Regions from separate parts of the Homo sapiens genome. Here region 1 is linked to region 2. Evidence: fine-mapped expression QTL. A gene starts in region 2. The other region holds a variant in brackets. All regions are shown on one strand. Distances are from middle to middle.

The links. PIP is the estimated chance that this variant, and not a neighbour inherited with it, causes the effect.
Region 1: its variant is fine-mapped to the expression of ATP8B4 in monocytes (CEDAR, PIP 0.94).

What each region holds. Positions count from the first base shown.
Region 1 is chr15:50,058,011-50,073,973 of GRCh38, forward strand. All of the region lies in intron 3 of ATP8B4 (ATPase phospholipid transporting 8B4 (putative)), which reads right to left. Among named protein-coding and RNA genes, the nearest start is that of ATP8B4, 53 kb to the right of the region's middle. RefSeq lists a silencer at 262-556. The variant GA/G (reference allele first, on the strand shown) is at 7,993.
Region 2 is chr15:50,111,562-50,127,524 of GRCh38, forward strand. ATP8B4 (ATPase phospholipid transporting 8B4 (putative)) reads right to left here and starts at 7,672. Exons shown (of 28, transcript NM_024837.4): 1 at 7,562-7,672. RefSeq lists an enhancer at 4,876-5,389.

The DNA of each region.
Region 1 (15,963 bases), 54 kb before region 2:
GAGAGAAAAAGACCTAGCATATGCCTTCTCCAGAGAGATAAGAAGAAGGCATACAAAAGAGCAAAAGAAAAGAAAGCAAAGATTGTATTTCAGTGGGACTTTCCTGGGGCATCCCTAATGATCTGTTTGCCTCCTATCTCTGCTGGCTAGAGCTCATCTATGCCTCCTCCTTTTAAATCAACTGGGGATCTAGGGAGTCAGCCCTCAGCTTTGGCCCACGAATTCGTCTTATCCTGAGCTTTAGGGATCTTGTATGATCAGAGTGGGCATTTCTTTGAGTTGAGGTGGGGGCTGGCTTGTTCAAGCCCATTTCCTGAACTACAACTTTGGACAACTTAGTGCAGATGGACTGCTTTGTTTATTTGGTCTGAAAATTAGACCATGTTCACACTGCTGTGTAGTCTGGGAACTAGGCCAAATTTCAAGACCTCAGTGTTTACAACAATAAGAAAGACACAATGGAAAAGTCCAGTTAACGTGGAAAGGCACCCATAAAGAATTTTCCAAAGGGCCAAAGAGTTATAATAGCACACGATACACAGTCTAATCCTTCCTAGCACTCTACTTCTTATACTAGAGTTCTACATAAATAACACCACCTCAGGGGTAGCCATGCAATTTTCTCCTGAACCTCTAAGGATCAGATGGAAAGTACATGCAGTTGTCAGCACCCTCTGCCATGCCCAGGGGGTACTGGAGCAACTGGGACCCTGATCCACTCATGAAGGTGTTCTCCTGCAACAGTCCTAGCCTTTCCTGGTCTCCAGCCCCTTCACAGCCAGGTTGGGGAGTAAATCTATATTCAAACAAACCCACAACACCTGGCTTTGTGGTTTTTTTTTTGTTGAGTGGCTTTTGTTTGGGAGTAGAGGTGTTGAGAGGGAGAGAATAGAAGACCAGGAAATACAGAAGGAAAATTCTCCACATGGGGCAGGTAGGGGAGGGCAGGGAAAAAAAAAAGAGTTTTAAAGCATCTTCTATCATTAAAACACATCAATAATAATTTATGAATAAAGTGCCAATCTTTAATTTTTGTGATTATATCATGCACAACGGGTTTGAGGAATTTTCACCAAATTTGAGGTTATGCTTGAGATAGTCTGAGTTAAATAAAGACTATCATAAATTTGCTTTGGGGGACTGACAATGGAGTTCCCTGATTACATATACAAAAATAGGCATTTGCCTTCTGTAGGAGCCAACAAGGAGATTCAATAAGAAGCCCATGTGGATGCTGAGCAGAGCAAGAGCTGCACGGTGAGAAGATGCACAGCGAGTCTCCAATCAAAACTCACTAGGCCAGATCCTCTAAGTCACTGAACTGATTTGCAACTGAGCCACTTCTACGGGAACAATTCTAAGTACCAGGCTTCAGGTCAAATAACAGTGTGACTTAGTTGTTTAATAGTTAATGATCCACCAGAGCATCACTAGGAAGGCCAGCTAGGAATAACTGTTAACGTACAAAACTGTGAAATAAAGCAAACTAGATCCTTTCCCCTGTTCCTTGAATGAATGAATGAATGAACAAATGAATGAATGAATCAAGGGCTCTGGCTGCAGTTCCTGAACCTCCTCCACCATCTCATTTCACTGCCTTCATAATCCTCTTCCCTAGTGCATTCCTCATCCATGTTCCTTTTCCCGATTCACTCCATCTGGCATAAGGGTTAGAAAACAAAGTTCATCCAGACACTTATGCAAGTGTGTCAGTTATTCAGGAGGAAGAAGCCAGAGAAGTCAGAGGGTTTGGAGGAACAAAATCAGGAGGCTTGTCAGAGGAATAGACAACTGTGCCCAGTATCCCTCCCTCTGAGGGTGACCAGGGGTGCTATCAATGAGACAAGGGACTTGAAGGGCTGGAGGAGGCAAAACCTAGGGGTCTGTGGCCTGAGCCCTTTTTTAGAAACTGGTTTTCCCCAAATGGTTAATATTTCTTGGTATATAACTCCACAAGATGTCAAGCCTGCTTTAGATATTCTCTTCCCACAATTGTCATTTCCAGTACTGTAAAATGAGTTGCCTATACCCTCAGTAAGGAAACTGAAACCCAGAAAGGCTAAAAGGCACTTGCCTCGGCCGAGCCAGAGCCATGACCCACAGCGTCCCCTGGGTTTCTAGGAAATTTTCTGATTCCAGAACTAAAGAAAAGCTGCCACTAGGAAGGAAGGAGGGCAGGCAGACATGCCGTACTGAAGGGAACTACTTATGTGACAAGACAGATCACCTCAAGCCTTAAACTTAATACACGCAGGTTAAGAACAAAGACCTTCCTCACAAACCTGGTTTCAGGAAAGCTTCAAGAACTTCTTGAAGACATTTTTCCCAAAAAATCTACTCATATTCACCACAACGAAACAACAATCCAATTAAATAATACTTGAGTGAGTGCAATTTTCCCAAGAGATATTTAGAAAAAAGTGAGGGCTTAGAGTCCTGAATCTGAAAAGTGATTCCATGTTTTATCAACTAAGTGACCTTTCTCTTAATTCCTCCAATCCTTCATTTCCCCCATGTAAATTTGCATGGGAATACCTGCCATGCAGAGTTGTTGTGAAGATTAAATGAGATAATACATGTAAAGTGCTTAGCATTGTGCTTGACAATTAAATACTTTCCCCGCCCCGCCCCCACCACCACCTCTTTGCTTTTGCCAAAATCTTCCAGGCACTACTAACTAAAATAAGAGAGAATCAGTTCAGAACTTCTGAAACTCAAATATGTATATGAATCATTTCGGTTTTTGTTAAAATGCAGTGATACACCTGGAGTTTTGTGGTGGGGCCCGAGAGTCTGCATTTCTAACAAGCTCCAGGTGAGGCCAATGATGCTGGTCTGTCTGTGGACCACACTTCAAGAAGCAGAGTATTAAAGAGCTCTAAGAGTTTTGATAGGCACAAATTGCTGTGATATAGGAAAGGTTGCATGCAGCTTTTTCAAAAGTTGATATAAGTTAAATTAGTACAAATCCAAGGGAGTCCCATTTGTGCACTAGAGACTATGAACTTTAGGAGGTACTGGATTCCCCCAGTAGGTCGTGGAGTTGAATCAATGTCACAGATGAAACACTGAAATGCCTTACTCCGAGATTTAGGCTAGAAGTACAATGTGCCCTTTTGACTCAGCTGAAGATATTTTTCTGGACTTCGTTTTCAATCCTTTAAGAGAAGTATATTGGATAAAAAAAAAATCAGTGAAAAATCAGATTTTTTTCCCTCCACTTTCAATTTAAGCTCTGGCAAATAAAAAGATCAGATCAAGCATCAAATTGGAAAATAAAGGAATCATGGAGGAAATTCCACAGGAATGTGGAAGCAAGAAGGAGCATAACAGGCTGAGGAAAAGGAATAGGGATCAAAGATATTCTTATTTTTAAAAAATGTACATCCCAAAGTACACAGGCATCATTTCCACAGGCAATAGCATATAGGCCCTGAACGGTTTCAGGAATTTAGTAATAACTATTTGTTGATAAAACATAAATTCATAACTATTCCAATGTCAAAATATCTGATTGATTTTAATAAGCCTATATAAAACTCACATTTGAATTAAAGAAACAAAAAAAATTAACTGCTTTTCATATTTAAAGCATTCAATTCCAGTATACCCTGGAAGTACTTTTCAGTGAGCTCATCATCTTCAGTCAGTTTAGGTTTAGATCTACTTAACATGTGACTGGCACTTGGCTTTTTGAGTAGCCAAATGGTTCCCCAAATCCAGACAGGGATTCAAAGTATAGTGCAAGTTGGGAAGTTTTCAAGCCAAGTCAGGTCATTTTTACACTACATAAATGAAACATGGTATTTTACCATTCTTTCATTCTCTTTGAAAGACATTACCAATATGAACAACTTTAAGAAAAGAAATGCATTTATCTCTTCCTAGAAAATTATCTTCCTTACTCAGATACAGTGAAAATGTTTATTATAAGCTAACACTATTCATTTTCATACTTAACTTTGTAATGTCTAATACTGTTATTTCATTTATGCATGTGAAATAATCTCAAAATTCCAAGAGTTCCTGAAGGGCTGAGACCTTATACGTTTTTAAGTGTCTAGAGCATTTAACAAAGTGATAAGCAAGAATTACTCAATACGTGTGATATAGTTTGGATGTGTGTCCCCACCCAAGTCTCATATTGAAATGTAATCTCCAGTGTTGGAGGTGGGGCCTAGTGGGAGGTGATTGGATCATGAGGGCAGTTTCTAAGGGATGGCTTATCACCATCCCCCTTGGTACTGTCCTTACAATAGTGAGTTCTAGTGAGATCTTGTCATTTAGAAGTGTATGTCACCTTCCCACTCACTCTCTTGCTCCTGCTTTCACCATGTGATGTGCCTGGTCCCCCTTCACCTTCTACTATGTTTGGAGGCTTCCTGAAGCCTCCCCAGAAGCAGATGCTGCTATGCTTCCTGTACAGCCTTGTAGAACTGAGCCAATTAATCCTCTTTTCTTATAAATTACCCAGTCTCAGGTACTTCTTTATGGCAATGCAAGAACAGTCCAAGACAACATGGCTGATAAACCCAATTGGAAAAAATACAAAATAATATATGAGAGGAAGACAATTCCACTTATGAGAAAATAACATGAGCTAATATAATTTTTCATAATTAATGATGCATCACAATAATTTTCAGTACATAACCTATAGAACTTCTTTTGCCAGAGAAAGATAGGCATTAGCACAAATATAGATTTTTCACATTATTTAGCACAACATGCAGTTTATTAATTTTCTCATATCAGAGTACAAGGGAGAAAAAAAATCAAATATTCCTTTAGCTCATTTTCTCACCTAGAAAAGCATTTCTTTTTCTGCAAAGCATTGCAAAGAAGTTCAGCTCATTTGTGCTTCTAACCTCAAAATCGTCTTTCTTAGGACAATGGCGTTTTTGTGGTATTGAATCTACAAGAGTCTTTGAAATATCACACATGGTACTAAGTGGTTTGCAAGAATCATAGGAATATGACTTGGGGAGGAATCTTCAAAGTTCAGTTATTCATTCTATCCTTCTGCTTCCATACATGTAGAAATAATCTAAACCAGCACTATAATAGATGTCTTTAAAAAAAAAAAAAGCCTTTCTGCTTATTAAGACAGAGAGCAATATTACTACATAATTAAACAAAAATTGGGCTGCCAGCAAAGACAGTTCATTATAGAAATTGGAACTAGCTAAGTAAACAAAATGTAATGATTAATGGCCCAACAGCAACCTATAGGGAGGTCTCTAGTGATAAGACGCATGGCCATGTTCTTCATTGTGTTGTGCTCAGTATTTTTATTATTAACTTAGATCAGTGATTAATCCAGGTTGCCCATTAGAATCACTAGGGGAGCTTTAAAAAAAAAAATGCCTGGACTCCACCCCTAAAGCTTCTGATTTCATTGGCCCATTTGTTTAACTATCAATGACAATACAGAGAGATGCTAAAGTCCACATAGATACAATAATAAAAGGAATAGTTTAATGACAGAGTAAGTGCCTATTATGTGCCAACAAGCCCTATGACAAGCAAGATATGGAGATAAATGTGACACGGTTCTTGTCATTAACAATAAAAATAAAATTAATATGAGATTAATAGACTCAACAGTCACTGAAAAGATAGTACAGTCTTAGACTGTATTAATAATCTTTCTCTACTTCAAGATGGTCAAATAAATTCTAGACTATTGTGTTTGACTTTGGAGGAACCCACTTGAAGAAGTTATAGAAAAACTGAGGCTCTTTGAAAAGAAAAGGAATAGCAGGTGATTTTCCTGGAGATCTGTTTATTTGATGAATTTGTGTTTGATATTTTAAACACAAATATCTGAAGTGTTGTTGCATGAAACAGAAGACATGTTTGCTCTGCTTTGGTCTCTGAAGAAAAGCTAAAACAATGGAAAATAAAGCAAGAGAATATCAATTTGGCTCAATTGATGGAAAAATTACCTAATGATTAAAACTACCCAAAGAAAGAAAAGGCTGTTTGGGGAGGTAATGAGGTCCCCTCTTCTAAAGGGATAAAAGCACAGACAGGACATGGAGTTGGTTAGAATTCTGTAAAGAGAGTTGAATGGAAAAGCTTTAAAGGATAATTCCACACTGAGATTCCACAGTGTATTGTACTGAAGCTAATTTCCTTGCAGTACCTAAGAAATCAGGTTTTTCCTTTTGTATAAAAAAAGCCCTTCTTCCCTAAACTTTTGGACAATTGGTACACAATGATGTCACCATCTATAACTTACCTAGATGACACCTGAACAGCCACATCTGTAATGATGTGAACTGACAACCAAGGAGGACACATAAAACCCAGTACAATCAGGACTGCTAGAGACACCAAGTCAAGGGTATCAGGAGCTAGAGATTTAGATCAACAGTCTTGGCATGTGACTCTGATTGCTGTCCTCTGCTTAATTCCTCTGAGAACAGTCTCTCATTATTCAAGCAAAAACATCCTTACAAAACTGTATACACTTCCTCACAACTACAACACTACCTCCGTGCACACAGTCATGCAATAGACACAGATTTATTGACAAATATATAGCCCAAGTCTTGGATCATTTTTAAAGAATTTTCAAGTTTAATGCCTAAGTAGCTTACTTTTGTAATAAACCTGCAAATTGTATACTTGATGTATTAGTCTATTCTCATGCTACTATAACAAAATACCTGAGACTGGTAATTTATAAAGACAAGAGGTTTAATTAGCTCATGGTTCTGCAGGCTGTACACAAAGCATAGAGGCTTCTGCTTCTGAGGAAGCCTTAAGAAACTTGCAATCATGGCAGAAGGCAAAGGGGAAGCAGGCACATCTTACACGGTTGAAGCAGGAGCAAAAGGGAGAGGGAGGAGGTGCTACACACTTTTAAACAACCAGATCTCAGGATAACTCACTGTCACTATCATGAGAACAACACCGAGGGGATGGTGCTAACCCACTCATAAGAACTTCACCCTCATAATCCAGTCACCTTCTACTATGCCCCACCTCCAACACTAGCGATGACAATTCGACATGAGATTTGGTGGGAACACAGATCCAAATCATATCATTTGATAATTGCTATGAGAGTAGATTTTAAGTGTTCTCATCATAAAAAAATGATAAGTTATGTGAGATAAGGCATATGTAAATCAGGTCGATTTAGCCATTTTGTAATTTATACATATTTCAAAACATTATGTTGTGTACTATAAATATATACAATTTTTATTTGTCAAAAAAAAGAAACTACATAGAAAATCAGGTGTAAAATGTGACAGTAATCTGGTACTAGTTTCATAATAGTGGACATGAAGTTAAGATCACCTTGGTACATAAATGATTTGATCTTTCAACAACAAAATGTAAAACATGATTGTTACCATCTTTTAACAATAAGATTCCCAGAACCAGACCATTTGGTCCAGTAAAGAAGATTGCAAAACAAGATAAAAACCACTTTGAGACCGTTGGGGTTAGTGGTTTTTTTCCGTTAACCTCTCAATTGTTACTAAACTTGCCCAATTTCATCCACACAGTTGATTTATGGATTATTTTCATGAACCATTTGCCAACAAAGGAAACTCCATTTATAGTTCCTTCTTCACAAGTAACTTACTCTTCTTTCTATGTAATCTTTTCATTTCTCAATCTTAAATTTATTCCATTACAGCCAAGCTATAACAGAGCAAAATTCTGCCATCAAAAATTGCTTATTTTAACTCTTGTAATTCCAATTACATATTGCTTGCATACTTTTCAGTTTTGTACCATTGCAGTGAAGAAAGTAAAAATAAAAATAAATAAATAAGCCAAATCTGTTTTTTTAACTTAAAATTTACTTCTCAAAGCAGATGGAATGGGAACTAGTTTATGAGGATGCTGAAATTATCTCAAGCCTGGAACAGGTAAATAACAAACAAATACCTCAGAGAACTTACCTAGATTCTTTAATTACTTTAATATGCCATTTTAGAACATTTAGGAATAGAAATTCAGAGGCCA[GA/G]AAAAAAAAAAAAAAGATTAAAACAGGCAAACTAAATTAGGGAAACAAGAAACCAGACGAATGCTTAGCCAAAGAATAACACTATTTAAACAAATCAGATGTCAAAAAGATAAAAAATATTTATGTTTTTATACTCTTGAATCCAGAAAGAAAATGAATTTGAGAGATATCCAAAAAATATATTTTCTCCTACAAGTAAATTATTTATAAAGAAAAAAATTAAAACCTTTGCCATGTCAAACTTAGAATAACATACACAGATATTAACAGCACACAAAACAGAAGCCATTTTCAATGTTTGCTAAAAAGCCACTGTTACTATGGTGATGCCCCAATACAAAAAAGCAACAACTAACAACCAGAAACCCATAACAAATGCAAGTTACTGGTGCTTTCCATGACTAATTCCAACGTGTCACACTGCTTGTCATCATCTGTACTCTTTAGTTGGTGCATCTGGTCATCAGCCCCATAGGTGAGGATCTGCATCATGTGGGCAGTACAGCTATGCTGCTCAAGAAGAATAGAGACCCAAATGTCCCATCAGTCCGGGGATGTGTTTCAACATGGTGACATCCCAAGAGTCTCCCAAAGAAAATATTTACGGAGTTTTACCTTTCCATGGATTTTAAACACATACTTAAAAAGCCAAAATATGTGAAAAGATTGATTTAAAAATGGTTGACCAAATTTCAGTCAGCCTGAAAGCTTTTATACTGTTTCTCTTCTCTTTATTGCAAGCTATTAATTGAATTAGCTCTACCCCACCCCCTCTTTCTTTTTTTTACAGTTTGTGGGGTTTTTTTCTGCCCTCCGACTTTTAAACCTCAACTTTCTTAAAAAATTAAAACGGCTTTCTTCAGGTCCTCCAGTTACTTCCTTCTATTAAAGATGTTTTCCCTTAGTTCTTAACCTCATAGGCACCTACCATTAGACCAGTTCACCACTCCCTCTTTCCTGAGACGTTCCCTTCCTTAACACTTTCCTACACTGTCCTCTCTTCGTTCACTTCAATCCTTGCTGTCCTCTGTTCCTTCTTAAGTTCTTTCCCTCCCACTCTCTAACAAACTGAGTTTCCACCCCATACCTCACATTTAGCAAGTTCCATCACTGCTTAACAAGCCTCACTTCTCTCCTAGCTCAAAGTTTCTCCTTCCAGCCGATATTCCTAAATCTACAGCTCCCACCACACCCAACTTACGTTCTGTGTTAACCTGGCCATTTCCGTTTGGGGATTTGGCCTATTTTATATGGAGGGCAAATAAAATCCCTTTTCACTTTGTGATTCCCCAGCTCCTGACAGCCAATTACCTCATGTTTAAACTCTCTTTTTAAATAGTCTGTTCTCACCTACCCAAACCATAATTCCTCATGACATACTGTCACTTCTCTTAGCCTGTAGTCTAAGGTCTGACTACAGGCTTTTGCTCCTGTCTCTCCTTGCTAACAGTGGTGGTACAAATAAACAAGGCAGGAATCATTTCCCACTTCCTCTGGCAAAACTTCCTCAAACACTTTCGTGTACTTTGAGCTCTCCTTTCCCTAGCATTTACAGGCCACATCACAAAATTAGAATTTCACAGCACCTTTTCATTCTTACCTATTATTAGTTTCATTCTAGTGTGCTGGGCTTCTCTTCCTGAGTAGACTATATCTGCTCCTTGAAGGTAGAAAGCAGAATTTGTACCCCCTTTCTTAATAGCTCCAGTAGCACTCAACACACTGCTAGTCTAAGCAGGCACGTCCTGTAGCATGCACTTTGGGGCCCACCTAAACATATTCTGCCTACACTAGCTTCTTCATGTATTGTTATCCCTTTGAGCTTTATATGCTTTTTGTACATTGCCGCAAATACTGTTTGGAAAATAAATGAGGAAAAGGCAACAAACATACATGTTGCTAGGTATAGAGCAGGTATGTTGTGAATATTAAATTCTGAAAATTATTTTTATTTCTATTAAAGAAAAGGGGACAATGAATGGTCTATGCACCCCACACACAGGAACATGAAATTTTCCTGTTAAGCCAGTCTTTTCTCAGAGAAACACAGATACATTATTATGATGTGGGCCTAAAGAGGCCCAGTGACCATCTCGGCTCACACACTGAGAATGATGGTGAACCATATTTTTCTACTCTACTCTCAACCACTTAGATTCTGAGTTAAGAGGAGAGAGAAGTTTGCTGACTGTGGAAACGTACAAAGTCCTATTTAAATGGGCGGGAGGGAAATAAAAGGAGTTCATGTTGCAGGGAGCCTTAGTGGTGTGATTGTAGCACTGACTGCTGGGGGTTGGAGGTACTCAACCACATTGTTGCACTGAATGAACACTTTGGAAAATCCAAATGGGCATTGTTTTACCAACCACAAAAAATCATGGGAGCAGCAAATAGATTTCATCCAATAACTAGGATATCAACAAGGCATTTGCAGATTCTAGGAATAAACTACAGCATTAGAATCATAATTTTTAGGTGGGACTCTTTCTTTCTAAGCATGTAAAACTACTGGTTAAATCTTCATCAATTTACATAAGCCTATGCACTTCCTAAATGGGATCAATAACTCCACTCAGGAAAAAAATCCTTTAAAAACTGCCTACCTACCTTTGTGCATTAAATATATTCAGATAAAATTTATTAAGTGTTTTGGCTTTACTGAAGTTTCTGAGTTTGAGGCAGGGTAAGTTTCTCATCACTCAAATAAGTTAATCTCCCTTCTCAAATTCTGTTAAAGTTCAAGAGAATTGAATGGGGATAGATCATGCCTGGGCCTATGTGACAGAGAGTGAGAGAAGAAGAACCAACGAGAACCAGTGCTTTCCATCATCATCTTTTTGAACTTTTAAACAAAATCAGAAAATAGCTATAATTAAGCTAACACTTTTTCTGATCTTTTAACATTAATACATTTTAATACAACTTCAACTGTTTTCACCACTTCTACCATTCACTCTGAAATCCTTTTAACAGGAATGAGTCTGGCTGTTTGGCTCACTCACAATTTTTCTTTTAACAATTATTAACATTAACATATTTTAAAACAACTGTTTTCTACTTCTATTATTCATTCCTATTATTAACCAAGAAAACATTGAACTCCCTTCTAATGAGAATAATTCTTCTAGCACTTGGCTCACTTTCCCTCCACTCTTCAATCCCATTTTGTCTTACACATTTTGGCAGTCTAAATCCCTCTTGTAATTTGACGTTTTTACCTTCCAGTTCTCACAATATCATGTCTAATTTACAAACTAATTTGACTTAGAATCATTAACCTTATCTTTTATGTTCTAAACCTTTATTTCTCAAAAGTGCTTTTGATCATTTTTAAACCTGTGCGATGTCCTATAATGTGATTTGCAGCTTTAGAGTTTGTTGATAAATGAAGGTTCTCGAGGTATTGAAGTATCTTCTGCCAGCCTTCCAGGAAAAAAGTTTGTCTGATCGGGCATAATGTTTCTGGAAATCACACAATTTATCAGAGCTATCTGTAAATTTTTCTCCTAAATTCTTACCTATAAAAGCCCAGGGTAATATTTAAGGCCACTCTTAGCCTCAGATTGTAAAATTGTGTATCTCCTTTATCTACTTTTGTCTTTAGAATATAAGAACTTTACCAGTGGTTATATGAGGAAAGGCAAAGTGATTAGGGTTTGTTTTGTTGTTGTTGTTTGGTTGGTTGATTGTTTTTTTGTTTTATTTGTATTTTGTTTGTTTTCCAAGAATGCTCAAAAGAGCCACATGACATCATGAAAAAAAATATAGGTTTTAGAATCTGGCCAGTCTGCACTAGAATTCCAGCTTTGTTACCTTTTAGTTGCATGACTTAGACAAGTTACTAAATGGAGCCCCATCTTCATCTCAGCAAGTTTTGTGGAAGCCTGAAATACGTTCAAAGCACCTGGTACACAGTTGGGTTCAAGCTGTATGGATATGAGCTATTATCTGTGTGACCCTGAGCAAGTCACTTAAGTGAGATCTCAATGGCTTAACATTTCCATATATTAAAAAAGGTAATAAAAAAGTAAGAAATAAGAGTATTTCGTGGACTAGTTATAAGATTAAATAAGTTTAATATAGTACAGTGCTTAGAACCATGCCTTTCATATGGTGAGCCCTACCTGTTTTAAGCTATCATTATCACTATCTTTATTAATTATTATTAGCACTCTCCCTGGGATATGCTGAAGTCTCTCCAAATTCATTTCCATCTGGAGTGATATTCTTTAAAGCTGGGCAAGACTGAGCAAAAGACACCAGGATGCTGCCTTTCTTAAAAGGATATTCCGTTTAGGGGTTAAAAAAAAAAAGCTTAAAATCAGATAGGCATAGGTTCAAATCCCAGCTCTACTTAGACTAGCTCATAGGGTTGTTGTATTTTACTCTACTTTACTCCTTACAATAACTGTATTAAATAGGTACTTTGATTATCCCCAACATATAGCAGAATAGACTGAGGCTGAGAGAGGCTCCACAGTTCACTGCATGGCCAGGCATCCTTTTGGGTGTTCCCAAACCAAGGCAACACCACCTAGGTGTAGTTGGGGGTCCCATGCTCCTAAGAGCATGGCAGGTGCTCATTTTCTCTGAGCCACAATGGAAGTCCTTTAATCTGGGATATCTGTGCCCCTCTCTGCTCTGTAGTTTTCTTTCTCCACTTTTGCTGTCATTCTTGGTTTTGCCAACCCATAGTGGAATTTGATTTTATCTTGGTTTTTTGTGTTGTGTTTTGTTTTGTTTTGTTTGTTTTTTGACATGGAGTCTCACTCTGTAACCCAGGCTGGACTGCAGTGGCACAATCTTGGCTCACTGCAACCTCCGCCTTCCAGGTTCAAGCAATTCTTCTGCCTCAGCCTCTTGTGTAGCTGGACTACACACGCCCCGCACCACCACACCTGGCTAATTTTTGTATTTTTAGTATAGACAGGGTTTCACCATATTGGCCAGGCTGGTCTCAAACTCCTGACCTCGTGATCCACCCACCTCGGACTCCCAAAGTTCTGGGATTACAGGCATGAATCACCATGCCCAGCCCATCTTGGTATGTTTTAACTCAGAGATGGAGCTACCTTGTTCAATCTGCTGTAGCCACAGGATATTCCTCTACTGCCTTGTGATTGTTAGGAAACCCAACAGAAGAGCCACAGCCACACATGTGCGTGCTTTTGTTCAATATCATGAAAACTCAAGAGAAAATCATGTCTATATCATTAGCATTTTATGACTTTTAAAAGAAAGAAAGATCTGAAGCAATGGCAAATTGTTAACATCTATTCAATATGGGTGGTAGGCAAATGGTATGTTGTTATTCCCCGTGCTTCTCTGTGAGTCTGCAATATTCCATTAATTAAGCAAAAATAATTGTAAATTGAAAAGAGCGTATCACTTTACAAGGCACAAACGAAATAAGGCTTTCCTTATAGGGTTACTACTCACAGAAGGAAAATACTTGTTGCATATTGGAAAACAAGTAAACGCAGCCAAGTACTTAAATGCATAATTACCCCATAGCAGATTAGTTATTGCTGGGTATTTTTCTCAAGGTCTTAAATATACATGTATCTAGCTCTCTGATTTGGGACTTGATGGTCAAGCCTTTCAGAGGTCATTCTCCACAGTTAAAGGACTGGCTATAGAATGGATGAAAAGGCATGGGGCCAAGTCTGGTGTTCACCAGGAGAAGCTGAATGACCATATGTCAGGAGGCCATACAGAGTGACATTTGTCACCTTGGGGAATTATAGCCCCTCCCTCTCCCAGGCTAAGAAGCATGTTGATCAGCCTCCTGAGAGGGATTTCTTGTCTCAAGAGCAGACTTACTTTAACCAAGCTTACAAGACTGATGAATAAAATCAGAATGCCAGTATATTGTTCTACAATGAGAAATCTGTCATGGAGGTGGCATACTGAATTCCTACAGGGAAACCTACATTGAAAATCAAATTATAATCACAAGTTTGCATGACTAGCACAGCACGAAAAAAGAGAAATTTAAGCTACCTCTCCTAAATATTAATAAATATTAATAAATATTAATATTAATTAATTAATAATTGATTAATAATTAATCAAGCTATAATAGCCCAATGCATTCATCTCCATATATGGGAAAGATCTGCCAATAGGAACAACACACAAAAAACTCCACTGACCAAAATTCTCTCTCCTCTAGTTGGTACCTAATGGACACTGCCAAAGTTTGCCCCTGGGACTCTCATATTTCTATGCTTTAATAGCCATCAAACCCCTCTTTGAATTGAGACTTTCTTTCATTAAATGTGCTGGTAAACTCAATCATACAACAGGTCTTATAGGCCACATATCACCTACAGAAACTACTCTACCAGTTTTCTATCTTAGAGCTTATAAAAGATTCCAGGTAGCAACTTACACAGAGTCATAGAAGAATAAGATCTTTATGAAGGCCCATGATGTAATTCATGAAGTTGTTCACCACTGTAGCTTACAACAGTGCCAGTCACTTAGTAGACATTCCATAAATATTCCTTACATCAATGAAAAAAATCCTCACTTAAACTGTTCAGTACAAGCCTAAAGCCCACACATGTAATCATTCTGTAAATACAATCATTCAGGACCTGGGAACTTTATCTTTTGTTTTTTTTTCCTTTCGAGATGGAGTCTCCCTCTGTCACCCAGGCTGGAGTGAGTGCAATGGTGCGATCTTGGCTCACTGCAACCTCCACCTCCTGGGTTCAAGCGGTTCTCCTGCCTCAGCCTCCCGAGTAGCTGGGACTACAGGCGCCCACCATCATGCCTAACTTTTGTATTTTTAATAGAGACAGGGTTTCACCATATTGGCCAGGCTGGTCTCGAACCCCTGACCTTGTGATCTGCCCACCTTGGCCTCCCAAACTAGTGTTGGGACTACAGGCATGAGTCACTGTGCCCGGCCTCTCTCTCTCTCTCTCTCTCTCTCTCTCTCTCTCTCTCTCTCTCTCTCTCTCTCTCTCTATATATATATATATATATATATATATATATATATATATACACACACACACACACACACACACACACACACACTATACATATACGCATATATATATGTGTGTGTGTATATATATGTGTGTGTGTGTTTTTAACTTCTGGGACACGTGCAGAATGTGCAGGTTTGTTACATAGGTATACACGTGCCATGGTGGTTTGCTGCACCCATCAGCCCGTCATCTACATTAGGTATTTCTCCTAATGCTATCCCTCCCCTAGCTCCCTAGGCCCTGACAGGCTCTGCTGTGTGATGTTCCTCTCCCTGAGTCCATGTATTCTCATTGTTCGACTCCCACTTAAGAGTGACAACATGCAGTGTTTGGTTTTCTGTTCCTGTGTTAGTTTGCTGAGAATGATGGTTTCCAACTTCATCCACATCCTTGCAAAGGACATGAACTCATTCTTTTTTATAGGTGCATAGCATTCCATGGTGTATATGTGCCACATTTTCTTTATCCAGTCTATGCCCAAATCATGGGCATTTAGGTTGGTTCCAGGTCCTTGCTATTGAGAACAGTGTTGCAATAAACATACATGTGCATGTGTCTTTATAGTAAAATTATTTATAATCCTTTGGGTATATACCCAGTAATGGGATTGCTGGGTCAAATAGTATTTCTGGTTCTAGATCCCTGAGGAATTGCCACACTGTCTTCCAGAATGGTGGGAGTGGAACTTTATCTTACATATATTTTTCCACATTCAGCCTGAGTTGCTTAGAGAAAATCCCTCAAATGCCATTCATCAACCACTAGCTAACGTCACTACATCCATCACTAAGTGCTACCAAAAAGGTCCATTTTCATATTATTCCTATGGATTCTACTAACCAAATGGGTACCAAAATGAGCTAAACATCAATTCTTGAGAAAGAAGAGATTTTATCATCTTCCCATGACAATAAGCATACCAACTACTCTTAGTGGGAGAGAAATATGTTTGTAAACATTACTAAG
Region 2 (15,963 bases):
AGCCCTCGGAGCTGTTCGGGGGGATGGGGAAGCAGGACATGGTAGAAGCCTGTCCTTTGGGGCCACACGCCCTGTTCTTGGATTCCTGCTTTTTCTACTAACTCATTACAGAATCTGGGGCAAATAAGCTCTGTAAACCTCAGAGCCAACCTGGGTGGGTCGTGGGGACAGGGCACATAATGAGAGTGTACATTTGATATTAGTTATCTTAAAGGCAGACCATTGATGTCTCTTTGTCAACATTTCTGCATAAACATTAGGAACAAATGAGGACAGCGAGTGTAACTCCTTTAAGACATTCTGCAATAAAAGAAAGGAGATAATGGCTGGGCGGGGTGGCTCATGCCTGTAATCCCAACACTTTGGGAGGCTGAAGTGGGAGGATTGTTTGAATCCAGAAGTTCTAGACCAGCCTGAGCAAATTGTGAGACCTGGTCTCTATAAAAATAAATAAATAAATGGACATAAGGGTGAACAGGTGATGGGACTTAAAGAGAAGCTCTGTTTGCAGTGAGGAGCTAGAGGGCATGTGGTAAACTGAGGGGTTGGGGCCAGTGGAAAGAGAAAGATTGAAAATATGAAGTAGAGTGACAGAAAAGCAAAGGAATTAGAGGAGATTGGAAAAAGGGAAAAGGAAGGAGCCAGGGCAGTTGAGGAAGAGACAGGAACAGTGCAGGCCAGGAAAAAGCACAGGCAGAGCCTTGGCAGCCCCCCTTGCTGGCCCAGAGACCTGCCCAGGCGAGCCCCTCCCTGTCTGTCTCCTATCTGAGAGCCTAGGGAGTAACTGAAGTGTCCCCACCAGGGTGGGGATCTTCTACTTCCTTTGGGTGTGGGTGCTCTCCAGTTCTCTGAAGACTCAGGAAAAAGCAGGCCAAGGAGGAAGGGACCCAATATGGAACATGCCCAAGCCCAGACTCAATATCTAACGTGCCCAACCCCAGATCTCCTTCTATGCTCCTTTCTCTGTTCCGTTCGGCTTGCCTCCTCTCCTCTTTGGAGGCAGAGTGTTACACAGGAGAGACTTTTAGAATAGCAAGGTTCAAGTCCCAGTTCAGTGGCTTTCTATCTAGCATTACTTTGAGCAAGTCATGTACCCTGCCTGAGACTCAATCTCCACATCTGTAAAGTGGAGATGGGAATGCCTTCCTCCAAGCTGTGTGAGGTTAAGTACACAGGTAAGAACAGTTCACTCCATAAAAGTGTGTTCCCTCCATCTCATTTCCACCTCCCCAGTCTACTTTTTCTCCTCTTACTCCATCTCCTTCTCTCCCAGTTTCCTTTCCGTTTCCCTAACATTTTTTCACAATTCTCAACAAGGCCCCTGCTTCCCATCCCAACCCACCATCTCTCTGAGGACTAACCCAACCAAGCGTGGAGAGGAAGAGGCTCCCTGTGAGGGCTGCACCAGTGTGGTCTTGAGCAGGAGCTGGGTCTTAGGATGTCAAGCAAGGATGACAGGAGGAAGGAACAAGCCCTTCTCTCCTCCAGCTGCCCAGCCCTTCCCCCTTCCTCCCTCTGGCCCTAGGTTCCCAGAGCCTGAAGAGCAAAGCCTCAGAGAGTCCTCCCACCCTGGGACCCATGTAGGGGTGACCTTGCTGTCCCACAGGCATCCCTGCCTGCCAACCCAAAATATTACCTGCAGCCCCAGTGCTGGCCCCCTGAGGAGCAGGTAGGATTGGGGAACTGAAACTCAGCCATGAGACCCCAGAGATGGGCGATCCAGATGAAGCAGAGTAATCTCAGCCTTGGGAGCTGAGACAGCGAGAGAAAAAGGAACAAGCCCAGGCTTCTGTCCTGCATGTGTGCAGTTTTGAGTGTGAGGGTGAGGGTGGGAGCTAAAGATAATTCTATTTGGTATCAGTGACAGCTGCCAATAGCCACAGTGCTTGTAGATTGTAGGAACTGTACAAAAGTAGAAGTAAAAAAAAAATTAAGCCAATCTGTGTATGTGTGTATGTGTGTACGTATGGGTGTGTGTAAAAGCCAAATTTATAAGGCCAGGAGCGGTGGCTCACACCTGTAATCCCAGCACTTTGGGAGGCCGAGGTGGGTGGATCACCTGAGGTCAGGAGTTCGAGACCAGCCTGACCAACATGGAAAAACTCCGTCTTTACTAAAAATACAAAAATTAGCTGGGCGTGGTGGCACATGCCTGTAATCCCAGCTACTCAGGAGGCTGAGGCAGGAGAATCACTTGAGCCCGGGAGGCAGAGGTTGCGGTGAGCTGAGATCATGCCATTGCACTCCAGCCCGGGCAACAACACGAAACTCCATCTCAAAAAAAAAAAAAAAAAAAAAAAAAAAGCCAAATTTATAAATGGCTTGCAACTACAGGTATATGCAATTACCGTGCCTCAACAATAAATTATTGTTATATTTACTGTATAACATACAGCAGGTTAATTGTTGTGAGTTGTCATGTCCATACAGGAGTCTCTTTATATTCTAGTCATGCAGCCATTACCCAGCCACAACATTTCAAAGCTTCTCTTCGTCCTCTCACATATCCCCTGTTCATTTTCCTTCTTGGTCTCCTAGTTTCTTTTTTTTTTTTTTTTTTTTTTTTTAATTTTCATAGACTATTGGGAAACAGTTTGGTTACATGAGTAAGTTCTTTAGTGGTGATCTGTGAGATTTTGGTGCACCCATCACATGAGTAGTATACACTGCACCCAATTTGTAGTCCTTTATTCCTCACTCCCTTCCTACCCTTTCCCCCTGAGTCCATAAAGTCCACTGTGCCATTCTTATGCCTTTGCATCCTCATAGCTTAGCTCCCACTTATAAGTGAGAACATACGATGTTTGGTTTTCCATTCCTGAGTTACTTCAATCAAAACTTCAGGCAACATTGGAAGTACTTACAGAAATGCATTCTAGTTTCCTTTTCTCCTTCCCTTCTCTTCCTTTCCTAGTCTGCTCTTGCTGGTCTCTTTCTCATTTTCCCCTCCTTGTCCTCATCCTGTCCCTCTTCTCTCAACCCTGCTTTGGCCATCTTCCTTCCTCTTCTCACTTCCCTATTGCTCCACCAGTGCTGGCGTTAGGCCGCCCAAGTTTGCTCCTGTTAACCCTAGAATCTCAAGCAAGTTCCCCTCCCTTCTAAGCTCCAGTTTTCTCCTCTGTGGACAATCAGAGTAACTCATAGGATCACTAGGAAAACTAAACCAAGCCATCTCCATAAAGAAATTAGCTCAATGCCTGCTGCCACAAAGTTAGTACTCAATAAGGGAAAGCGATGATTATTTTTATTTTTCTTAAAATGTATTTTTTTAACTCTCCACATGGAAAAAACCTCCTACCAAATTTGAGAACCATGTCCTCCCTCTACTGACATTCAATTATCAAAGACTTATCAGGTGCCTACTCTATAGCTAACATGGGCTGGGCATGAGGGAGGCAAAAATTCATTTCCAGTCTTTCAAAAGCCCACAGTCTGGGGAAGATGAGAGCAGACAGAAACATAAAAGACCATTCGAATCGTGAGTGTAGGCCAGACACAGTAGCTCACACCTGTAATCCCAACACTTTGGGAGGCCAAGGTGGGCAGATGCCCTCTATCTCCTCACTTGAGTCCAGGAGTTTGAGACCAGTCTGGGAAACATGGCGAAACCCTGTCTTTACAAAAAATTAGCCAGGCATGGTGGCTCATGCCTCCAGTCCCACTGCTTGGGAGGCTAAAGTGGGAGGACCACTTGAGCCCAGAAGCTCAAGGCTGCAGTGAGCTGTGATTGTGCCACTTCACTCCAGCCTGGGTGACACAGAAGACCCTGTCTCAAAATAAATAAATAAATAAAAATTTTAAAAAAGGATGATGAGTGCAGGGCTATGGTAGAAGGAGGGATGGAGAACTATGGAGGCAGAGGAAAGGCAGTCACCAAGCCTGCTTTGCAGAGTCAGCGAAGACCTCACAGATGGCAATTCTGAGTTGAGTCCTTTTAAAAGGAAAAGAAGAGCTTGCTAAATAAAACAAGGTAAGGACAAGTCAAAGGAACAGCGTGAGGAAAGGCCAAGTGTTGTGAAAGGGAAGGAAGGTTTGCGGAGCAGTGATAGTCATGGCAAGCAGATCATACAGGCATAGGAAGAATGTGCAGTGATATGGGGCTGGCAAGGCAGGTAAGAGCTGGATTCTGAAAGACAGGATCATCTTCATCATTGTCCTCATTGTCACTGCCATTCACTGGGGACTTGGCCTTGTGCTAAGAACTTGACACGTGTTGTCTTATTCAGTCCTCACCAAAACTCTACGAGCAGGAATTACCGTTATCCCCATTTTATAGATAAGGTGACAGAGAGCATTGCCATGGTCAAGATCCTGTGGTTGCTCCTGCAGGTTGCGGGGAGACAGAAGAGGTATCTAAGTAGAATGGCACAATTAGAATTCAGCCCTCTTTTCCATTATCCTTGTTCCCTTTTGTCTCTCTGTGCCAGTCCAGGCTGTCAGGGATTTTAGGAAGGTTAATCTCACAGTTTGGGCTGGCACAAGAGGAGATGGAGGAGCAATGACAACTGGCAAATGGGGCTGAATTCTAGAAATGTTTCCATAGTTAAATATGCAGTCTATAAATGATCTGTATGGGCCAGACATGGTGGCTCATGCCCGTAATTCCAGCACTTTGGAAGGCCGAGGCAGATGGATTGCTTGAGCCCAGGAGTTAGAGACCAGCCTGGGCAACATAGTGAGACCCTGTCTGTTCAAGTAAAATAAAATAAAATAAATGGTCTGTGTGTTTGGATGCAGAACAAGGAGGAATCTGGGGTGACTTCCAGGTTTTTGCCTTGGGACACTGAGGGAATAGAGGTGCCACTATGATGATAAATACAGCAGTGAAGGGAAAAGGAGGAGAAGGTGGAGGGGCAGAAGAAGGAATTGGGATGAAAAAATAATGTATTTAGTTTGAACATGTGGGCTTAAAATGCCTCTTGATCATTGAAAACATCCTCACAGCACTAAAGACAAAAAGACAGATTTGTAGACTTGGAATCATCAACATATAAGGAAGGAGTGAAGTCAAGGGGGAATGAATGACCTCACCCAGAAAGGACAAGAACAAAGAGAGGTGAGGAAAGGACAGAGGACGAGGAACAAGGACAGAGCTCTAGAGGGCGCTCAACTTCAAAAGAAAGGTCAGTGAAGGATCCATTGAAATGAAATGCTGTGGCCCTCCCTCTGTGACCTTTTCCCCTAGGCATCTAGTACAGTGCCCGGCACTGGGTAGGTACTCAAACTCCAGTTGAGTAAATAAAAGGAGAGAGAAAAGCAAGGTAGCTTTAAAGTAAGGAAGGAACATGTTTCCAAAAACATAATGATCAATAATATTTAATATTTAATTAGAATTTATTAATATTTGAAATATATAATGTTGCTAGGAGGTTACTATTTTTTAATATCTTTTCATGAGAGATTCTAAAAATAAATACTTGTTTCTAATTCTTACTCATGCTATACAAGAATTTAGATTACACACATTAAGTTTTGTTTTTTATTTTTTATTTATTTATTTTTTTGTGGAGACAGAGTCTCGCTCTGTCACCCAGGCTGGAGTGTAGTGGCCTGATCTCGGCTCACTGCAACCTCCACCACACGGTTCAGGCGATTCTCCTGCCTCAGCCTCCTGAGTAGTTGAGATTACAGGAGCCCACCACCATGCCTGGTAAATTTTTGTATTTTTAGTAGAGAGGGCGTTTCATCATGTTGGCCAGGGTAGTCTCGAACTCCTGACCTCAAGTAATCCACTTGCCTCAGCCTCCCAAAGTGCTGGGATTACAGGCATGAGCCACTGCATCTGGCCAAACATACATTAAGTTTAATTTCAATGACAGCTACAATTTCCAATTTACTTTTAGATGGTTAGTTAACTCTTTTCCTACTAAATGAAAATATTCAATATGCCACATATGAAAAAAATAAAATTCTCCCACCCACAAAAAAATCCTCCAGGGGCACAAAAAAAATCATTTGTTCCCTCATTTTTAAATATTTCTGCATGATGAGACAATATAAAGGCACAATATAGGTTAAAATAAATCACTCTGTGGTTTCTCAAAAAAAGTGAAAACAGATCCACCATATGATCCAGCAATCCCACTTCTGGGAATACATCCAAAAGAAAGGAAATAAGTACCTTGAAGAGATATCTGTACTCCCCTGTTTATTGCAGCACTATTCACAATAGCCAAGATATGGAAGCAATAATATTTCTTCTTGAGGAATAAAATTTTTAAATGTGGTATTTATATACAATGGAATATTATTCAGCCATGAAAAAGAATAAAACTCTATCATTTGCAGCAACATGGATGGAACTGGAGGATATTATGTTAAGCAAAATAAGCCAGGCACAGAAAGACAAATATCACATATCCTCTGTCATATGTGGGAGCTAAAAAAGTTGATCTCATGAAGGTAGAGAGGGAGAATGGTGGTTACCAGAGGTTAGGAAGGGGAAGAGGAAGAAGGGGGTGAAGGTAGGCTGGTTAATGGGTACAAACATACAGTCAGATAGAAGGAACAGGTTCTAGTATTTGATAACACGGTAGTATGACAATAGATAATGATAATTTATTTTTTATTTATAATAAACGATATAGATATAAACGATAAAATAAACGATATAGATAATGATAATTTATTGTATCTCAAAATAGCTAGCAGATTTGGAATGTTCCCAACACAAAGAAATGGTAAATGTTTGAGGTGATATATATGCTAATTACACATCGTATGCATATACCAAAATATCACATGTACCCCATAAATATGTGCAGTTATTACATATCACATAAAAAATAAAAAATACATTTAAAAAAATCAAAACTGAAATCACTCTGAGTTTACATTTTGTAGTAAAGGCCAGCATGGAGCAACAGCTGAGTAAAAGGGGATACTTCATGGGCACAGGTGTTGGTAATCCCACAAGAAAACCTGTGTTTCCTCATTTACTTTCTAACAAGACTTCAGCTTCCAATTAATGTTTTTCACCAGTTTTCTTTTCTTCAAAACAGCTAATTGTTAACCAGGGACCTGAGACACTCTCTTGCCTATAAACAAAACAACTAGAAGGATACCTTTTTCTGTTCAGACAAATTTTAGCACTAAAAACATAACCCTCAAACCTCAGAGGGATAGCTCAGTGCAAACTGTTCATGTCTAAAGCATAAATTGACCATAAACAATATATTGAATAGGTGCACTGTATACAAACCCCGTGAAAAAAATAAAACCAACTACTACCAAAGGAAGTGACAAAGACCTACAAACCAAGAAGAAATGTACCTTTATGCTACTATCATTGGTCATTTAATAGGCATGCTAACAGAGTAAAAAATAGACATTTCAAACAACAAAAAAGAAAATGTCACATCTCCCATTTCCAACTAACTCCCCCAAATTTATTTTTTAGCAAAAGGGGAATAATAAAGAATATTTGTGAAACCTTAGTCACCAAGATGAAAACAGCAAAACAAAATAGGGATCTGGAGAAAAGAAACAGATCGTTCCAACCAGCCCACAGCTAAATTTCCACTTCATCTCACTAACCATTGAATGCTACCCATCTACTCACCTCAACCCAGACTTAATCCTCTCCCCCAAAAGGAAGATTTCTCAGCAGTGCAGGAAGATCAAACAGGTATCCATTCCGTGACCATGCCAAGGAGAAAAGCAAGGCTACTCTGAAAGCTTGAGGGATGATACAGAAAACAAACTGGGTCTCTAGGGGGCATTCTCAAAAACCTGAGATCAACTCCTGGAAAAACACTCTTGACCACTTACCACCACCGGAAGCTGCTAGATGGCAATCAGAATCAGCATCTCATCAGAAGAAGAGGAAGACCTTACAAGAAAGCAGCTTCACTGTCAGTGAGGAATTGAGGGAGAAAAGCACTCCTTGGAAAAATGCTGAAAGCCCTGAAGAGCCTCTCCTCCCCTAGTTGCCTGCTCCTGCTGACAGGACAGAACTGGTTAATCTTGGGGAAACAAAAGGAAACTCCCAAGAGGCTGGCTTCTGAGGATGGCTTCCTCTGTGGGAATCAAGAATTCAGGAGGATGAAAATGAACAATGGAAGGGGACACCGGCTACCAGGCCTACTTACCAAACTTTTACCAGCCCTTGACTGAGGAAGATAAGCAAATCTGTTTGCAGTTCCCACCTGCTTTTGCAGAGATGAAAGAATCAGCAGTGGGTTTTTGTCACTTTTTTTTTTTTTTTTTTTTTTTTTTTACAGGGGAAGTTCAGCTCTCTTATGGATGAAAGCTAAGCATACTCAAGTGACATTTAGTAGGCAAAGCAATGACACTTCTTTCCCAACATCCTTAATTTCAGCACAGAGGATGCAAACATTAACCCTGATGGTACCAAAGAACAAATGCACATAGGAAATGGATTTACATCTTTTAGTTTGGAATTGCTTTTAAGGGGATTCTGGTTGTTAAAGCGGGATTAGATGAAAATAAAATATTTTGGTGCATATCTATTTTTAAAAGGAAAAATATGGCTTCTTTTAAATATGCCTAAAGCCATCTAGGAATTTTCCAGAAGTTGCATCAGATTTGCCAGTTAAGTACTGAAATCAAATAGATTTTAATCATGTCTCTATAACCAGAGCAAGCTAATCCCCTGCGCACCATCAACTCCACTCTCCTGGAACATCCTCACGCTGGGCCCTCAGGTTTTCACAGAAACAAGGGCCTTTTCCTACCAAGGTTCCACAGTAACAAGAAACTACAGATTTCTGGAAATAAGAGAGATGGCTTTCTTTCTTACATGATAAAAGAGGACCAAGAACAGCTTAGAGCAGGAAGCAATCATCTCTTTAAAATATTTAAAATAAAAAACACTTTTAAGTGAAAAACATTTTTAAGTATCACCTCTATACCATTTTTAAACCTATCATATGGGGCAAATATAAGTTTGGTAATTCCCTTTGTTAAAGAAGATATAAGGAAATCAGGGCCTTTTCCTTTTCCTATACTGTTAGTGGGAATATAAATTGGTAAAATATTTTTTAAAGGAAACTGAGTATAGTAGTGCCTATCAAGTATTGAAATGTGTATGTGTTTTTATTTCTTAGGAATTTACCTTATAGAAAACCACACACACGTGCAAACATATCTCTAAATATGTTAATTATAGCACTATGATAGCAACAACAAAAAAACACCTAAAAATGGCTTACATATAAGAGACTGCCTAAATAAGTTAAGGTATATTGATACAAAAGAGTACTATGTAGCCATTCAAAAGAGGGTAGAATTGGAGTAAGGAATCAGGTCATCTGAGTTTAGTTCTGTCTCCACCAGTGACTGGCCAGGTGACTATGCAAGCTCCTACACTTATCTGGGCCATCTGTAAAAAGATGATCATTATAGAACTTACCTCATAGGATTGTTGCAACTAAAACAGTGCCTGGAGCAAAGTAGAGACTCAATAAATTTAGCTATTATAAATAAGAGATAGGCCTCTTCAGACTGACATAGAAAAAGATGTCCAAGATGTACTGTCAAGTGAAAAGATCAAGTTGCAGAAGAATTGTGTATAAGATAATCTCATTTTTAAAAAATATTTTAAATGTGCTCGCTGTTTATTGTCTCCCTCCCACTAAAATAAAAGCTCCTTGAGAGCAGGGACTTTTGTTTACTGTTGAACTCCTGGTGTCCATAATAAGCACTCATGAATAATGAATAATGTCGAATGAATAATGATAACAGCAAGGCTCAGCAAGAAGAATAGGTGAATTCACAGAGACAGAAAGAGTAGAGGCTACCAAGGGCTGCAGGAAGAGAGTATGGGAAGGTATTGTTTAATGGGTACAGGGTTTCAGATTGGGATGATGGAAAAGTCCTGGAGATGGATAATGGTGATAGTTATACAACACTGTGAATGTACTTAAAGCCACTGAACTGTACACTTAAAGGTAGTTAAAATGATAAATGTCATGTTATGTATACCTAGCACAACTTTTTCAAAAATTTCTACTTTTTCTTCATAAGGAGTAGAAAGACGGGGAACAGAGAAGGATGTCCATCTTATAGAGGACTATTACTAGTGTGACTGCAAACCCTTGCTAATCAGAAAACAGTTTAAATTCTCGATTTAGGATACAAGAAAAAAAAAACCTTTTATTCCCATTATACAAAGGTAGCTAAACAGAGCTTAAACTTTCATCCCTATTAGGCAGTATGTGCACTGTCAGAACGCCAGGTCTGTGTTTTCAAGAGGCCTTATTTTGTTTTAAAGCCTTACTTTTGACAAACGTCCTTTATGTCTGTAGTCTAGAGTTTTCAAAGTGCTTTCTCAAGGATCATCTCAACTTGTCCTGACAAAAATCTCGTGATCATATTAAAGGAATTTTAATTAAGTATCTGAGCATTTGAGAGAAAAAAAGAATTCTGAATTTACTCACTCTTTTACCTTGTTCTCCAACTTTACACACATTTCATCAAAACGAAGAGATGGAAATTTTTATTCTTAAGAATCTGAAACCACACAACTATAAGTCTAATATACAACGGAATAAATAGCATCTTATGTTTCTTAGAACCTGTAAATATCTCTTGCCTAACTGCCAAGATAGCTAAGAAAGCCAATGAATTATGGTTTTAGATAAACAGATTAACTACCTGTAACAAGTGGGATGGCCTGGCCTATAGTTTGAAATCTACAGTTGGAAGAAATTGATCTAACATATTTTCATTCAACAAATGCAAATACTCTGCTAGACACTTTGTGGGACATAGAAAAGATGAACAAAATATGATTCCTGCTCCTGTGATGCTTATCAGCTGCTGGAAGGAATCAGATGTGCAGATGAGGAGATTCTGCAATTTAAGTCTCTGACATTGAGAATGGGATTGACAAATAGTAGATTTAGTCACTTTATGTCAATTCAATTTAATAACAATAAAATAAATTAAGATTTAATTGATTACCTGGAATTTAGTCATAACAGAAGTTTTAGGTTTTGTTGTGTTTGTCTGTTTGTTTGCTTGCTTGCTTTTAAGGCCAACAAGGGAAGATTGAGTTGATTGAAATGTCAAACCAAGTCCTTGGTGTCAGCCTAAACAGCAGAGAAGTAGCTCTGGCCTAAAATTGCAATTTGGGAATATGCACTAAATAATGAAAGAAAATCAGAACAAAGTATTTCATAATTCTATAAGCATATTCTTGAACTATCCACCTGCTCCAAGCAGACTAGAAGCCCACTTGAATCTCCTAAAGTCTACACTGGAGTCTACACTGCAAACCTACTCACTAAAGAATGAGAATTGCTGAAGTGTAAATCATAGAACATTGTGTAAATTACTCACCCACCTTAAGCCTTAACTTCCTGGTTGCAAAATTGGGAAGATTAAAACCTTCTTCTCAAGCTGTTTGTGAAGATTAAATGAGATATTCATTAAATAAATAACAAATGGATAAAAGTATGCATTCATATGAAAATTGTATATGCAGTGATAGAATAAGAATAAATAGCACACAACCCAGCACCTGTCACATAAGCCATTGTCTAACAAAGGTCAGTATCTTCTTTACTATCTCTCCAGAATCCAAATGCGACTACATTTTCTTTATCAGAACAGATAGGAGACTGAAGCCACCTTTGCAAAAATTATAACAGTGAGAAGATTATGACAGTGAAAGACATCTGACCTAACTGACTCCATCTTGCTTCTAACCTCCAAGCTGTCCTTGTCATTCCTGGGCATAGGCTGAACTAACTTTGGGAAAAATTTAGTTTATAGTTTAACTTTGCAACAAAGATGGTAACAGCCCTTCCCCAAACAAACCCCCTTCTTACCTAGGGACCAGTCTGCCTTTGTAGGACTAACAAATTAGCTACAGGATTAAAAATTATGGCTTAGGAGTCATGCAGCCAGAGGCTGCAAGATTCTGAACCTCCCCATATTGCTCCTGAATGGTTTACAGAATTAACCAGGAACAGAAGACAGCAAGGAAAACCCAGTTCAACCTCCTGTGATTTCATCTTCAACTCGACCAATCAGCATTCCCCACTTTCTGACCCCCTACCCACAAAATTATCCTTAAAAACCCCAATCCCCAAATTTTCAGGGAGACTGATTTGAGTAATAATAAAACTCCTGTCTCCCATACAGCTGCCTCTGTGTAAATTAAACTCTTTCTCTGTTGCAATTCCCCTGTCTTAATAAATTGGCTCTGTCCAGGCAGCAGGCAATGAGAACCCACTGGGCAGTTATGAGACCTTTGAATTCTGAGCTACTCCACATCTCCAGTTTTTTTCATCCTGATCCAACCATCTGTCTTCTCCTCTCTCTAGGGCAGTATTCCCCAAGCATATCCTTTCCATACACCATAAAACAGCATAAACAGACATTTTAAAGGGATGATATCAATAAAGATAATTCAAAGTTTTAGTATTTTCTTCCTGCACCCCAGAGCAGTTATTCAGAACCTCCTTACCTCAGCAGGTGACAGGAGTACAGTACACTAATAATGTTCCTGGGCCACCACGCCCCCTTCTCTCTAGTGATTGAAACCAATTTGCCTCCCATTCAAAAACAGATCCAACAAGTCTTTGAAGTAACATATGCCCTCATAGCCTTTAATATCTAAAAAGAAAGTATAGTTTTCTAACCTCTTGTAGTTTCATTTATTATCTGGCACTTTCCACTGTGTATTGGGCCGAAGTTCACCAAGAGAAGGTAACTCAACTCCTCCCCCACCCCAATTTCCCCACCAATTACTTAACCTTTTATGAAATAAAGGAGGTTTCTTTACATTGGCCAACATAAACGACTGACCCATTGTTGGTAGTGCCCTTTCCTGTGTGGGATTTTCCATCCTCCATGAAAAGACTCACAATTAAGTTTTACTTATTACTCAACTAACTCATGAAAAGAACAAAAAGAGAATAAGAGAATGCAAACAAGAAGTTAGAAGTTAAGCCACAGATAGAGACCCGGATTTAGAAGTAGAGGACTTTTCTACTCTACTAATAAAATTTCAGGAATTAAACTTAAAGTAATATAAATCCACCACTACATTACAATTAAGCTGGTAAGATTTTTAAAAAGAAAAAAAAAGATACCTAAATTTATGGGTGCTAAATGTCACCTCTGGGAACCAGCTCCTGACAGTGATCTGGACTTTCCCTCAAGGGCTCTCCTGAATATCCCTTTCAGTGCAGACACTCAGACACAAGCAAGAACAATAGATCCTACAGGGCTTGTTGTTATGCAAGCCCACTCACCAAAACCAGGTGATTTGCATTTAATTTGCCCTTTCAAATACTATCTGAACCATGTGTTCCAGAACTAGATGACCCAGCTTTAAACCAGACAGCCTAACACCAAGCCAGACTATTGGCAACTCTAGTTGTAAAAGTCATTCTAACAATTCATTTCCAAGTGATGAATGCTCCACAGCCAAAACTGGATCCTGGAATAGGCTGTTGGCATCAGCAAGAGAAACACTCCCTAAAATAATGTATCTCTTGCTATCAGGGGAGTATAGTATCTTCTTTGCACATAATGGGTATCCAGTAAAGACTTTTGGCCTCCGCTTTTTTATAGACTGACATCATAAGAAGTCCTTCCAACAATCAGGGCATTTACAAGAAAGGAGTAGTAGAACAATGAACCCGATCTGGATCAGTTTCAGGGCTACATGGTTCTTGTTATCTCAGAATCTCCAAGACCCAAGGAGCAGCCAGACACTTAGGGTCTTTTAACACTCACTCCAGCCCCATTTTCTCCTTAGCAAACTGTCATCCCAATGAGAAGAGACGCTCTGCTCTTCATCTCTTTACCCTTTTAGTCTGTCCTCCAGGTCACTGGGTGTGAAAATTTCCTACCCCTTATATGACACTTGGGAAGTGTAGGGTCCAAGATCAAAGGAGTTCAGGCTCTTAATCAGGACATGTCTCTGGGACATTTCACACATTCTTCACCATTTTCCAAGCCCCAATTCTGTATCAACCCCTCTGCAAGGCATTGGGGACCCCAAGGTAACTGAGACCTGGTCTCTGTGAGAACAGAAAAATAGCTCAGAGCAGTCTGCACTACGGGAGGTTCGAAAAATTTATCAGGCCCAAAAAGACAGGAGTCTAAGATTTCAGTCATGTGACCCCCAAACCCATCTGTGGGGGCAATTGTTTAAAGGCATTTTGTTCCTGACTACCTGCCTCACCTATTATCTTCATGTTCCTGGAATTTTAATACAAAGAAACAACATATAGCCAATCAATAACTTATGTTATTTTTAATGTAAATTCTTGGTAAACAACTTAGAAACTGCCTCTTCTTTTCTTTAAAAACCTGCTTGTAACTGCTGCTACAGCTTGTAACTGCAGAAAACTGAATCTATGCTCCCAGGTTGCAATCCTCAAGCTTGGCCCAAATAAACCCTCTAGTTATATCTATTTTGCCTGGGATTCTTTCTTTTAGGTCGATATCTGCCCTAACAAGAATCCTTCTAGTGGAAGAGAAAATAGTTGTGAACAAATTGTGACACAATGTGATAGTAACTCTAATTTAGGTGTCCCTTGTCCAAACAGGCTTCGGAACTACAGGAGAGGGGAAGCCATATTTCAGTGTGGGTGTGGAGGTGTCACGGGAAACCCTCAGAACAAGTGAAGCTGAGTCCTGAAAGATGAGTAGATGAGTTAGGGAGGGTCTTGTTAGTTCCTAACAAGCTAACAGTCCAAAAAAAAAAAAAAAACACTTCACTAATACTGTCAGAGGCGTCCAAGGCCTTTGAACCAGAGCAACTCCATCTTACATTCCCAGAAGATTAGTCATTCTTAGACACAGTTTCAGTTAAGGGAACAGGTTAATAATGTTTACTGAACAGACCCAGGAAATGTCCCGATGACCTGATATTGTTACTGGAAAGGGATCCCAATCCAGATCCCAAGAGAAGGTTCCTGGACCTTGTGCAAGAAAGATTTCCATTTGGTGGAGGTCCGAGTTTCTGAAAAGTAAACTCAGGGTCATATGTCAAGATGTTATCTTTAGCTTCTGTAGAGAACCAAACATCTTATGACTATAACTTCTTTAGCTATTATTTTAAGCTACTATTACTCTCTTACTTATCAAGTTGCTCATTTAATTCTCAGGACTAGCTAGGTGCCTGGAATTTCCATTGAAGAAACGCAAGATTTTCCTTTATTTCCATGCTTGGTGGAGGGTGGCAGGCAATCTGATAAGCAAGGAGGTAATAATAGCTTGAAACAATAGCCAAAGAAGTTAGAGTCCCAATAGAAACTAAAAATAACATCTTAACATATGTCCCTGAGCTGTTTTGCAGAAACCTGCCCACAGCCCCCACACCCCCCCGCCACCAAATGGAAAACACCATCCACTGGCACAACAGACCTTGGGGAAGGGGGAACTGGAGACTGAAATCTGACCACTGTTCTTCATTCTAAATTTCTTCCTGAGGGGCCTGGCAGAAGTTATACCTACAGGCCAGAGTTCAACATTCCTTTCTGCTGACCCCAAGTTTTTAAACAAATCTTAACCAATCGCAGATCGGGAAATCTTTGAATCTACCTGTAACCTGTGGACCCCCACTTCAAGATGTCTCCCCCTTTTTAGGTCAAACCAATAGCCTCCATGTATTGATTTATGGCTCTGCCTGGAACCTCTGCCTCCCTGCCTTTAAAAACTCTTACATGGAAGCCATCAAGGGGTTTGGGTTTTAAGATTAGCTGCCCAATTCTCCTTGCATAGCACCCTGCAATAAATGCTTCACTTTTCCTCACTGCAAATCAATCCCAGTGTTAGTATTTGGCTTTGCTGCATGGGCAGGCAGATTAACTGACCCATGTTCAGTTCAGTAACAATGGCCTTCCTCTACTGTGACTTGGGCTTCCATTCTAAATGGCTTGAGTGAGTCACAAACATACATCCCACAGCAATCGTGAATGTGGAGAGCAAAGGTGAGTTTGCCATCATCTCAGTATATCAGTCAATGTAATTTCTAGG